3 linked regions of the Homo sapiens genome follow. The protein of the gene in region 1 purifies or fractionates together with the protein of each later gene. This does not show direct contact. Each region holds a gene or a part of one and is shown in the gene's direction. Other genes may lie near its edges.

Evidence for each region.
Region 2: the proteins of GCM1 (region 1) and DLX3 purify together in Homo sapiens (co-immunoprecipitation; one study listed by IntAct). This does not show direct contact.
Region 3: the proteins of GCM1 (region 1) and PABPC1L purify together in Homo sapiens (affinity purification with mass spectrometry; one large-scale study listed by BioGRID and IntAct). This does not show direct contact.

Annotation. Positions count from the first base shown.
Region 1 is NC_000006.12:53,138,813-53,142,534, reverse strand, and holds part of GCM1 (chorion-specific transcription factor GCMa), read left to right. Parts: intron 1-3,722. UniProt on the Homo sapiens protein: Transcription factor involved in the control of expression of placental growth factor (PGF) and other placenta-specific genes. Binds to the trophoblast-specific element 2 (TSE2) of the aromatase gene enhancer. Binds to the SYDE1 promoter.
Region 2 is NC_000017.11:49,992,425-49,996,410, reverse strand, and holds the start of DLX3 (homeobox protein DLX-3), read left to right. Parts: upstream 1-1,186; 5' UTR 1,187-1,412; coding exon 1,413-1,737; intron 1,738-2,820; coding exon 2,821-3,011; intron 3,012-3,986. UniProt on the Homo sapiens protein: Transcriptional activator. Activates transcription of GNRHR, via binding to the downstream activin regulatory element (DARE) in the gene promoter.
Region 3 is NC_000020.11:44,923,356-44,927,077, forward strand, and holds part of PABPC1L (polyadenylate-binding protein 1-like), read left to right. Parts: intron 1-805; coding exon 806-901; intron 902-3,722. UniProt on the Homo sapiens protein: Poly(A)-binding protein involved in oocyte maturation and early embryo development. It is required for cytosolic mRNA polyadenylation and translational activation of maternally stored mRNA in oocytes.

The DNA of each region.
Region 1 (3,722 bases):
CTGTAGAGTACAAGTTACATGGAATTTTAATAGGTACTGTGAAGAAAGAAAAAGAGCAATACGAAGTTCAACAAGGATAAACAGATTTCTTGACTGCAGGCTTGGAGTCTTTTTCACCATCCTGTGCATTGGTGGCTCTCCGAAGGAGGCTGTATTAGGCAGTATTACCCCAACTTATTTTTGACCATGAAACTTTTTTCCTGAAGCCCTTCAGGGGTTGATGTTCCCCAGACTACCTTTTTTGGCATTTAACAAATGTGGTTTAAAGGATCAAATGCAATGGCTTGTTATGATTATAAATTTCTCTAATTTCACTCTCTGTCCCATCGATCTAGATCATTTATAGTTTATATTTCATAATTTTATATTCTTGCCAGAATTATTAGTTATACAACACGTAGGAAAATTCCTTTTCTGTTTATCCTTTCACATGCTTCAAGTTTCAAGTTTCTTTCTCTCTCCTTCCTTCCTTCTTTCTTTCTTTTTCTTTCTGTTTTTTTTTTTTTTTTTTTTTTTTTTTTTTTTTTTTTTTTTCAGGGTCTCACTCTCATTACCCAAGCTGGAGTGCAGTGGCGCAATCATAGCTCACCACAGCCTTGAATTCCCGGGCTTAGGTGATTCTCTCAACCCAGCCTCTAGAATAGTGGGGACTACAGGCGTGCACCCCACACCCAACTAATTATTTGTCTTTTTAGTAGAGATGGGGTTTTGCCATGTTGCCCAGGCTGGTCTCGAACCCCAGGACTCAAGAGTTCTGCCCACCTTGGCCTCCCAAAATACTAGGATCACAGGCATGAACCATTGCACCCGGGCTTCAAGTTTCTTTCTTTCTTTCTTTCTTTCTTTTTCAGACAGAGTCTCGCTCTGCTGCCCAGGCTGGAGTGCAGTAGCACTATCTCGGCTCACTGCAAGCTCCACCTCCCGGGTTCACACCATTCTCCTGCCTCAGCCTCCCAAGTAGCTGGGACTACTTGCACCTGCCACCGTGTCCGGCTAATTTTTTGTATTTTTAGTAGAGACAGGGTTTCACCGTGTTAGCCAGGATGGTCTCGATCTCCCGACCTCGTGATCCACCCACCTTGGCCTCCCAAAGTGCTGGGATTACAGGTGTGAGCCACCGCACCCGGCCCTTCAAGTTTCAAAATGATTACCCAAATACCAGTTGCATCTTCTGGTCTGAGAAACTCCATGTGTCTTTAACTAGTTCAGATACATCAAGGTTTATGGGTTAATTTTGACAACAGTGAGCAGTGATGTCCTTACTAAGATATCAGACATTTTTGAGAAACTTAAATGCAGGAGACACTGTAGTAGGCTCAGGGATACTGGGGCCATTAAGCTATGTTAACTTCTGTGGAAATGCTCATGATCTTCTGGGCTAGTGGAACAAGATTACTGCCTAAATAGAGAATCAATGCCATGTAGAAAAATGCTAGAGGAGTTTGAAAGGAGTGTGCAGTTCAACATGACTCTGGCATGGGGAGCAAGGCCAGAAGAGTTTGTGTAAGGTTAGAGGAAAAAAAAATTAGATCAACCATCTATTATTTATGTCATTATTTGTACTTGGAAAGGTGAAATCTAATTGCTTTAAGGTTTGCTTGATCCAAGCAGCAAAAGTCTGGTGTTGATTTAGTCTTGATTTAAAATGTGGATTACATGGTCCTGGAGAGTGTCACACTCTCATTAGTACTGATTGTAATACTTGAGAGAACTTTGAATCTCTAAGAATTATTTTCTTCTGGTTGAAAATTGGGAAGAAATTCAGTTCCTTTTTCTCTTAAATAGTACCCATTTCACTAGCAAGAGGAGAATATCCACTCTGTTTCAAATACCAGCCAGTTTCTCTCAGTTCAGGTTGTGCCAATAGCACCACAGCCAGCAAACACCCTGGATCATTTTGTTCCTACACACTGAGCAGTTTGCAAATTAAACCCATGGCCAAAGCCACCCCAAGCCATTAACTCACAAAATTACAAGGTTTAAGTACTTTTTTTTTTTTTTTTTGGTAGAGAGAACATTCTCTAGTATAGAATAGTAAAGTCAACTGCAAAGGGGCCACAGTTCTGATTAGTTCATTCCTGGACTATGATTTTAGCCAGCCAAACTTCCTTTGTCTCTGCAAAAGATAAGCCCCAAATTGTGATCAAACATGAATATTTGAGCTCTCTCTGTGAATCCATGTGGCCACATGTAATCAGAACAAGCCAGTTGTAGTACTCAGATGTGTCTTGGTGCTAGGGAGCTAACAGGTAAACCAGATTGTGGATTTCTTGTCAATTATTATCCCCTGTATGAGCAGGTCACGTTGTCATTGTTCTGATGGGGATTCCTGTGACTTTGCCCCCTTTGCCAGACATTCTCCTTGACCTCAAGGGTCATTTGAACTTCCCTGAGAGCTCTACCTATATGGGCTCCCATGATCACTGGGGCCTCTGCTATTTGGACCAGAATTCTTCTGCCACTCTGTGCTTCTGGTGTGATACAGATAGGAGCATTATTGCATCTGCTGGTACCCTGCAGCAGGTCCCTTGCTTAGCTGGGTGGAGGGAAAAGGGAAGCGAAAAGAGAAGACAGACGGGGTTTGAAAGCTGAGGTAACTTGGCATAACTTAGTGTTTTCAGAGTAAATAAGGAACTTTGTCCTGAGTCTTATTTTATTTATTTATTTATTTTTTTAGACGGAGTCTCACTCTGTCGCCCAGGCTGGAGTGCAATGGTGTGATCCCAGCTCACTGCAACCTCTGCCTCCCGGGTTCAAGCGATTCTCCTGTCTCAGCCTCCCGTGTAGCTGGGACTACAGGCATGTGCCACCATGGCTGGCTAATTTTTGGTATTTTTAGTAGAGATGGGGTTTCAAGATCAGGATGTTCTTGATCTCCTGACCTCGTGATCTGCCCACCTCAGCTTCCCAAAGTGCCGGGATTACAGGCCTGAGCCACCGCGCCTGGCCTGTCCTGAGTCTTGATCTCTTGACTAAGAAATACCAGGATTAGTCTAAAGAGTAATCAGTAATTCCCCCTTTTTTTTTTTTTTTTTTTTTGAGATGGGGGTCTTACTATCTTGCCTAGGCTGGTCTTGAACTCCCGAGCTCAAGCAACCTTCTGCCTTAGCCTACTGGGTAGCTGGGATTACAGACATTCCCCACCATGCCTGCCCTAAGGAGTAATTCTTGAACAAACACAAAAGCATTTTGTTGAATTCAATTTTTTTCCTTGGTAACACTTGGAGTTTTATTTCCAGTTGGCCCAGAAGAGATAAGTTCCTGAAAAGTTGTATGTAAATCAAAACATTGGTTGAAGGTTTTTTTTCCTGTTTTCCATAATATCTGATTTTTGTACCTCTATATAATTTGCTTTAAAGTATGTTTGTTTGATATTCCTGTTCTATTTAGAAATATTTATTTATAAGTAATGAATAAGCTATTTATATAATTAATGAAAACCTGGAAGATATTTACTTTATGCAAGAGCAGACTATATTCCAAAAGAAAATCAATTTCATAATATGATCATATGATAATGTAGATATTTTTGATACTTTATTTCAGAATTTGTATTTTAATTGATTAGTTTTATATAACAATACATACTTCATTTCTTCAGATAACCTCTGAAAACTTCAAGTAGTTGAATAAGTTAGAATGAGGTGAGTATGAAGGGTGTTCTAGAAGTGCATAGAGCTACAAAAATTTTGATTGAGTTAGAGGATTAAATCTGTTAGTAA
Region 2 (3,986 bases), on another chromosome or scaffold:
AACCACATGTTCACACGCGGATGGCCCTCCACTCATGCTGCCTGCACCCCGCCCCCGACACACTCCTGCATGCATGTACCTCTGTGGATACTGTGGAACACATGAAATCCTCACATCACACACCCCAAATACACTCGTCCCATGCACCCAGTCCCCAAAAGTGTCCCAATTCCCCAGTGCTGTCCCATGATACACAAAATCTGCCCTCAGACTTACTGAAGCACACAGTCACAGAGCCAGCCTGTGTCCACCCAACCTCGTGGGGACCCCAGGTCCCTTGCTACCTTCAGCAAGACTGGGCCATCTGTGAAACTGCACATACATAGCTTTGGAGATAGTTCTGGTATCACCGGACAGGCTGTACATCCCCAACAACCTCTAAATCCACACAGGTCTGCTTCCCCTTCTCCAATAGGATCCTCCTAGTGCTAAATTATGTCTTTCATAGGCTCAAGACATTCTTGCCCGGTGGGCACCTTCCTAAATAAAAAGAAAATTTTTTAAATTACGTTTTTGTAATTATGTAATACAAGGATATAATAGCAATGACTGCATTGCTATTAAGATAATATATTAATATCATATATTCAAACATTCTCTTTCACCTAAAAGGTGTTTTCCTTTTCTTCTGATTTTAAGAGAAACCATTTTCAGGGGCTGTGAGTCCTCACCACTTTGGGTACATTTGTGTGCCTGTCATTTGCACAGTGCGTGCACACGTGTGCACACACACACAACCATACCCCACCTTAGACCATCTCTTTCCACAAACACACAATGGGCAAACTCCCCTCCTTGCCCACCTCACCTAAGCCCATCTCTCATCCCCCAGCCAGAGAAACAGACTGACAGATCCTGGGGGCTCCACAGAGCAACCCTTCCCCTCCACCTCCACGCCCCTCCTTCAGAGAACTTATCTGGGCTGGAGCTACAAGAGTAGCGAGGGTGTGTGTGTGTGTGTGTGTGTGTGTGTGTGTTTTGAGTAACAACAAAGACTGGGGAAAAAGAAGAGAGAGGAGGGAGGAGAGAAGGAAAAGGGAGAGAGAGAGAGAGAGGAGAGCATAGGAGCGAGAGAGCAAAAGCGTGTTTTGCCTGGAAGGCAAGACTTGCAGCCAATCAGCGCGTAGGAGCCTCCCTCGGCGACTCCACTATTGAGTCTATAACCGGCTGGCCGGGCGGAGCTGGCAGCATTTGATTGTGGCTTGGGACGCGAGGAGAGGCGCGCAGCGACCGCCTGACGGCAGGCAATGGTGTAAGCGCCTCTCGGCCTCCCCCTCCCCCCAGACGCGGCCGGGTCCTCCCTTCGCCTTCTGGACACACACCCCTGCCTCGTCTCTTCCGCCTCTCTCGCACTCCGGTCCGTTCCTGTCCTCTGCGGAGGCCAGCCCTGGGGAGGTGCAGCGCCCGCCAGGATGAGTGGCTCCTTCGATCGCAAGCTCAGCAGCATCCTCACCGACATCTCCAGCTCCCTTAGCTGCCATGCGGGCTCCAAGGACTCGCCTACCCTGCCCGAGTCTTCTGTCACTGACCTGGGCTACTACAGCGCTCCCCAGCACGATTACTACTCGGGCCAGCCCTATGGCCAGACGGTGAACCCCTACACCTACCACCACCAATTCAATCTCAATGGGCTTGCAGGCACGGGCGCTTACTCGCCCAAGTCGGAATATACCTACGGAGCCTCCTACCGGCAATACGGGGCGTATCGGGAGCAGCCGCTGCCAGCCCAGGACCCAGGTGAGGGCCACGGGGTCGCGAGGACAGTGGGAGACACTGGAAGGTTCCCGAGGGAGGAAAAGGCATGGACTGGAAGCCAAAATCTAGGAAAACTTCTAAGAAAAGTACTGTCTGGAGTTAGAGAAGTTGGCCTAGATGACCCTCAGAGGGACCAGGCGACCTTCCAGCCCCGGGTGTGCAAGCATTTGGGGCGCGATGTGCGCAGTGCGCCGCGGTCCCGGATGAGGATCGGGATGAGCTGAGAGAGGAAGGGGAAGGCTGTGGGTTGTTAGGAAACCTCCGAATCGAGGTGATTTCGTGGGCATTTCAGCAGGCGATCCTCGATCAAGTCGCAGAGGGCTTGGGGGTAGGCGGCAGGGGCTGGAAACTCTAGGGGCCCTCCTTTGGATAAGGGATGGGGAGACTAGGAGTCGTGAGGGGGCAATGAGAAGGACCCACGGAAGTTGCGGGAAAGCGGAGGGAAGCAGCCACCGAGAGGCAGAGAAGCTGAAAAAGGGAAAAGTGAAGGCAGCAAGAGGGAAGTATGGAAAGACAGTGAGAGAAAGGGCAGAAGAAACAAGAAAGGAAGGAGAGAAGGAAGGGGGGAAGAAGGGGGACAGGGAAAGAAAGAAAGTCTGCACTATCCTTGCAACTTTTCTGAAAATCTAAAGAGATTCTAAAATGAAACTTTTTTAAAGGGCGGGGGGCGGACGGGAAGGAGCGAGAGAAACAACCGACGGCGAGATGGGACTGGGAAGGGGGCGGCTAGCAGCCGGGCGGCGAGGAGCCCCGAGGCTGGGAGGCGAGCCGGGAAGGCGTCGTGAGCGAAGCCGAGGCGGTCCTGGCGCAGGCGGCGGCTGGCGCCGGGGACAGTGCTGCGGCGGCCGGGCGCGGAGCTGGGAGCGCCGCGTTGTGGGCCGCGGCCAGTTCTGGCTCTGGGGCCGCGGCTCCCCCCTGGGCCGCGGGCAGCGGAGCGCGCGGCCGGGAATCCCGCGGCGAGTCGGTGGGCGGAAGCGAGGGGCGTCCGGCGGGGCCCTGGAGGGTCGCAGGAGTCGCAGGCCGAGGCTGAACCGCCCCCTCTTCCGCCCGGTGCGTTCCCCGCAGTGTCGGTGAAGGAGGAGCCGGAAGCAGAGGTGCGCATGGTGAATGGGAAGCCCAAGAAGGTCCGAAAGCCGCGTACGATCTACTCCAGCTACCAGCTGGCCGCCCTGCAGCGCCGCTTCCAGAAGGCCCAGTACCTGGCGCTGCCCGAGCGCGCCGAGCTGGCCGCGCAGCTGGGCCTCACGCAGACACAGGTTGGTGTTTGGCTGTCCAGGGCCGCGGGGGCGCGCGGGACCCCGTAGTTCCCCGCGCGCTGCCGAGCCTGGCTGGCCACTGAAGGGCCCTGCGGGCTCCTGGAACTCTTGCCTTTGGGATGGGGGCCTGCGAGGTTCAACTTCGGTGGGAAGGTTCTGCGTTAGCACGTGTACAAGTGAGCATAGTTGTGAACCCGTGCAACTGTGTATGTTCCCCTACTCCAGAATTCCCAGCTCCCAAGTCCCCCAGCAGTGCTAGTCACTTAGTAGGAGTCCACATCGTGTTTTCCCTCCAGGCTAGGCATGTGTGCAGACTGTCTGTGTGCATGTATAGGCGAGTGTGTTTGCACACATGCTGTGTGGGTCTGCATGCACCGGAGGATGCTCATGTAAGGAGTGTGATCCTGCCGGGGTCATTGTGCATAACGATGGGGGCATGTGTGTGTGACTGTGCGCCCTGAATGTATATGCGTTCTGAATGCATGTTCAGAAATGTGTGCTTGCATCAAAATACCACATTCCTGCTCAGCACTTGAACGCTCAAGAGAGGCCAAATTCCCTACCTGAAGGAGATGGGGACTCAAAAGTGAGTGCCGCACCCCCACCCTCATCCAGTCCCTAAAGCCCCCAGCAGCCTGTCACTGCTCAGGGGAGGAGCAGTGGATGCCTGGCTCCCTCCAGGTGTTGACAGGCGGGCCTAGGTTGTGGCTGTGGCTGCGTGGGGCCCCATCCGCCGGGAATCTGGGTCACCTGGTGAGGAGCTGATTCATTGTTTGTACCAGTCATGGGGTGGGGAGTGGCAGGGGGAGGGGGAGATACCCCAGGGGAAATTTGGGGAATCATGGCTCACCTGCTCCTGAGTCCCCAGGTCACCCCCATTATCCAGCCCGAGCCCAGGAGAACTTCTCCACACCTGAGTGTGTGAATGTGGGTGCTCATGTTGTGGGGTGCTTATCTGGGTGTATCTGTGTCTGC
Region 3 (3,722 bases), on another chromosome or scaffold:
CTCGTGCCTGTAATCCCAGCACTTTGGGAGGCCAAGGTGGGCAGATCACCTGAGGTCAGGAGTTCAAGACTGGCCTGACCAACATGGAGAAAGGAGAAACCCGTCTCTACTAAAAAATACAAAGTTAGCTGGGTCTGGTTGCACGTACCTGTAATCCCAGCTACTTGGGAGGCTGAGGCAGGAGAATCACTTGAACCCGCGAGGCAGAGGTTGCACTGAGCCGAGATTGCACCATTGCACTCCAGCCTAGGCAACAAGAGCAAAAATCCATCTCAAAAAAAAAAAGTCTTAAAAAAAAAATCAAAATGTATGGGAAAGCTTAGAGTGGCACCTGGCACCAACATGAGTAAGTGCCCGAGGTTCCTGGGCTGGCAGGGGATGGAGGGGCAGCTCACCTGTGTTAGGGTTCTGGTCATGGGCCAGCCAGGGAGGAGCTCTGACTCCTGCTGCCCGACATCCACCATCTGGAGAGCTTGGCTTGGGCATGCTCTGCACCTCAGCCTGCCACGGGACCTGGGACATCCTCGTGGGCCCCATCTGTGAAATGGGGAATAGCTGTGGTGAGGCTGGGACCAGTGCAGATGTGTGAGAACTGCAGGGGAATTTGGGATGTGGGGGCTACAGCTTGCATGTGATGGGCACGCTGAGGGATGGGGGTACCTGGGTGCTGAGGGAGACGGGGAGCAGGAGGCTGGGCTGGTGGGGCTCCCCATGCCCCTTGTACCTGCGTCAGTTCCCTGATCTCCCCAAGGCAGTTGGGGCTTGGAGGAGAAGGGGACATCCAGCAGTTTCCCTTCCATCCCAGGGTGTGAACTTGTATGTGAAGAATCTGGACGACTCCATTGATGACGACAAACTGAGGAAAGAGTTCTCTCCCTATGGAGTAATTACCAGTGCGAAGGTGAGGACTGGGGGCACCTCCGGGGGACAGCGTTCCCCTCCATCCTCTCACCACCATCCCCCCACAACCCCACCCCTCCACCCTCTCGCCCAGCAGCCTTCAGGGGGTTGGTGCCGGCTACCCCTTCTGGGGCTCTGCTGACCCCGTTGGAGCTTGTAGCCATCTGCAGCCTTGTCTGGGCTGGAGGGGAAGAGGGTAGAAATATAGTCCCAGTCACACAGCTGGACTTGGGGCTCACTGTCACCTTGGCATTTATTGAGTGCCTACTGTATGCCAGATTCCAGAAATTCATATCTTAGTATTTCCATTGACTTTTGTTGTCTGGCCTCTGCCAGTGACATTACCCTCCTGGGCCTCCGTTTTCCCATCTGGAAAGTGAGAGGGCTGGACTTCGTCATTCTTCATTTGTTCTTCCCTATTTCTGGAGCACCAATTGTGTGCCCAACCCTGTTAGGCCCCTGAGATGTGGCAACTGGCCCATCAGCAGCTCTATGAGCTTTAGCAGATGTTGTCTTATAGATAAGGACACTGGGCTCACTGGATGGCTTTCCGACCCTGGCTTCTCATTACAACCCCCTGGGCAATTCTTAAATACACACACCTCAGTCAGGCATAGAATGTGGATCCCCGGGGTAGGGCCTGGGCTTTTTATTTTTTTTTTTTAAAGCTCCCAGAGGCTGGGCAATATGGCTCACGCCTGTAATCCCAGCACTTTGGGAGGCTGAGGCAGGCAGATCATGAGGTCAGGAGATCGAGACCATCCTCGCTAACACGGTGAAACCCCATCTCTACTAAAAATACAAAAAATTAGCCGGGCATGATGGCACGTGCCTATAGTCCCAGGTATTCCGGAGGCTGAGGCAGGAGAATGGCATGAACCCAGGAGGCGGAGCTTGCAGTGAGCCAAGATCGTGCCACTGCACTCCAGCCTGGGCAACAGCGAGACTCTGTCTCAAAAAAAAAAAAAAAAAAAAGCGCCCAGATGGTTTTTAAGATGATGATCCAGTGTTTCTTCATTCTATACTTAAATACCTGCTGTTTTACCAGGCTCTGTGGGAAACAGGAGCAAATCAGATGTGATCCTTGCTTTCAAGTAGCTTATAGTCTAGTGAGGAAGTCAGCCCGTCACTAACTCAAATGGATTATAAGATGGGGGACAGTATGGGAGGCAAAGCTACAGGAGTTCAGTGGAACAGAAGGGAAGGCTGCCTGGAAGAAGTGGCAGTAGCAGCAGTGTTTGACTTGGCTGTGAGGAGGTAGGGAGCTGGAGTGGGAATGAGGAATTTTCCAAAGAGATCAGTGTGAGTGACAGGATGGGGGGACCCGCCTGAATGATGTGATGTTGGGTTCTGAGGAAGTGGTCTAGAAGTTCTCTTTTGGCTACTGAGTCCAGTTGTAAACATCCTTCAGGGAGCCTTGTGTTTGGAGGAAAAAAGGTTGTCTTTTAGGTTAAGATCCTTTTGAAAAATGCGAGAGAAGGCTGTGGCACATGTAAATTAGGCATCAGTAAATTTGATTACACATCATAAAAAGCTATAGGTCCTCTTTCCAAGCAAATGCATATACATTTGATGTAGAAACATGGTTGAAAGCTGGAATTTTAAAGTTAATCAGGTTTAAATGTAAACCCCAGTCCTACCATTACCTAGCTGTAGAAACTGAGGCAAGTGGCTTTGCTTTTCGGACCTTGTTTACTCACCTATAAAGTGGGAGCAACATTTCTCACCTCTCCAGGTGTCCTAAGAACTACTAAAGAGGCTGCATGTACAGCATCTGCATTCAATAAGTAGTGAAATAGTGATTGTCGTAATGATTCATCATACACCTTGCATACAGCTTCAGGAGATGGACCTTCTTGAGGACTCCCCGAACAAAGGAAATGTGTAAATTTGGATTGCTTAGAGTTAAGGCACACCTGGGGTGACCATCTTTTTAACAGGACAAACGGTATAAAATGGGGATTATAAATATATCTATTTTTTGTGTGTGTGATGGAGTCTAGCTCTGTTGCCCAGGCTAGAGTGCAGTGGCGCCATCTCGGCTCACTACAACCTCCGCCTCCCGGGTTCAAGTGATTCTTCTCCCTCAGCCTCCTGAGTAGCTGGGATTACAGGCACCTGCCACCATGCCCAGCTAATTTTTGTATTTTTAGTAGAGACGGGGTTTCACTGTGTTGGCCGGGCTGGTCTCAAACTCCTGACCTAGTAATCCGCCCGCCTCAGCCTCCCAAAGTGCTGCAATTACAAGAATGAGCCACCACGCCCAGCCTACATATATATATATATTATACAATTATTTATTTATTTTGAGATAGAGTTTCCTTCTTGTCGCCCAGGCTGGAGTGCAATGGCGCGATCTTGGCTCACTACAACTTCTGCCTCCCAGGTTCAAGCAATTCTCCTGCCTCAGCCTTCTGAGTAGCTGGGATTACAGGCGCCCGCCACCAAGCCCTACTAATGTTTGTATTTTTAGTAAAGATGAGGTTTCACCATGTTAGCCAGGATGGTCCTGAACTCTTGACCTCAGGTGATCTGCCCGCCTTGGCCTCCCAAAGTGCTGAGATTATAGGCGTGAACCACTGTGCCTGGCCTATGTTATGCGATTTTATATATTTTGGTTTATTATTATTTTTTATTAGATGCAGGTTCTTATTCTGTTGCCCAGGCTGGAGGGCCATGATGTGATCATGGCACGCCACAACCTCAACCTCCTGGGCTCAAGTGATCCTCCCACCTGAGCCTCCTAAGTAGCTGGGACCACAGGCATGTGCCACCATGCCCAGCTGATTTAAAAAAAAATTTTTTTTTGGTAGAAATTGGGA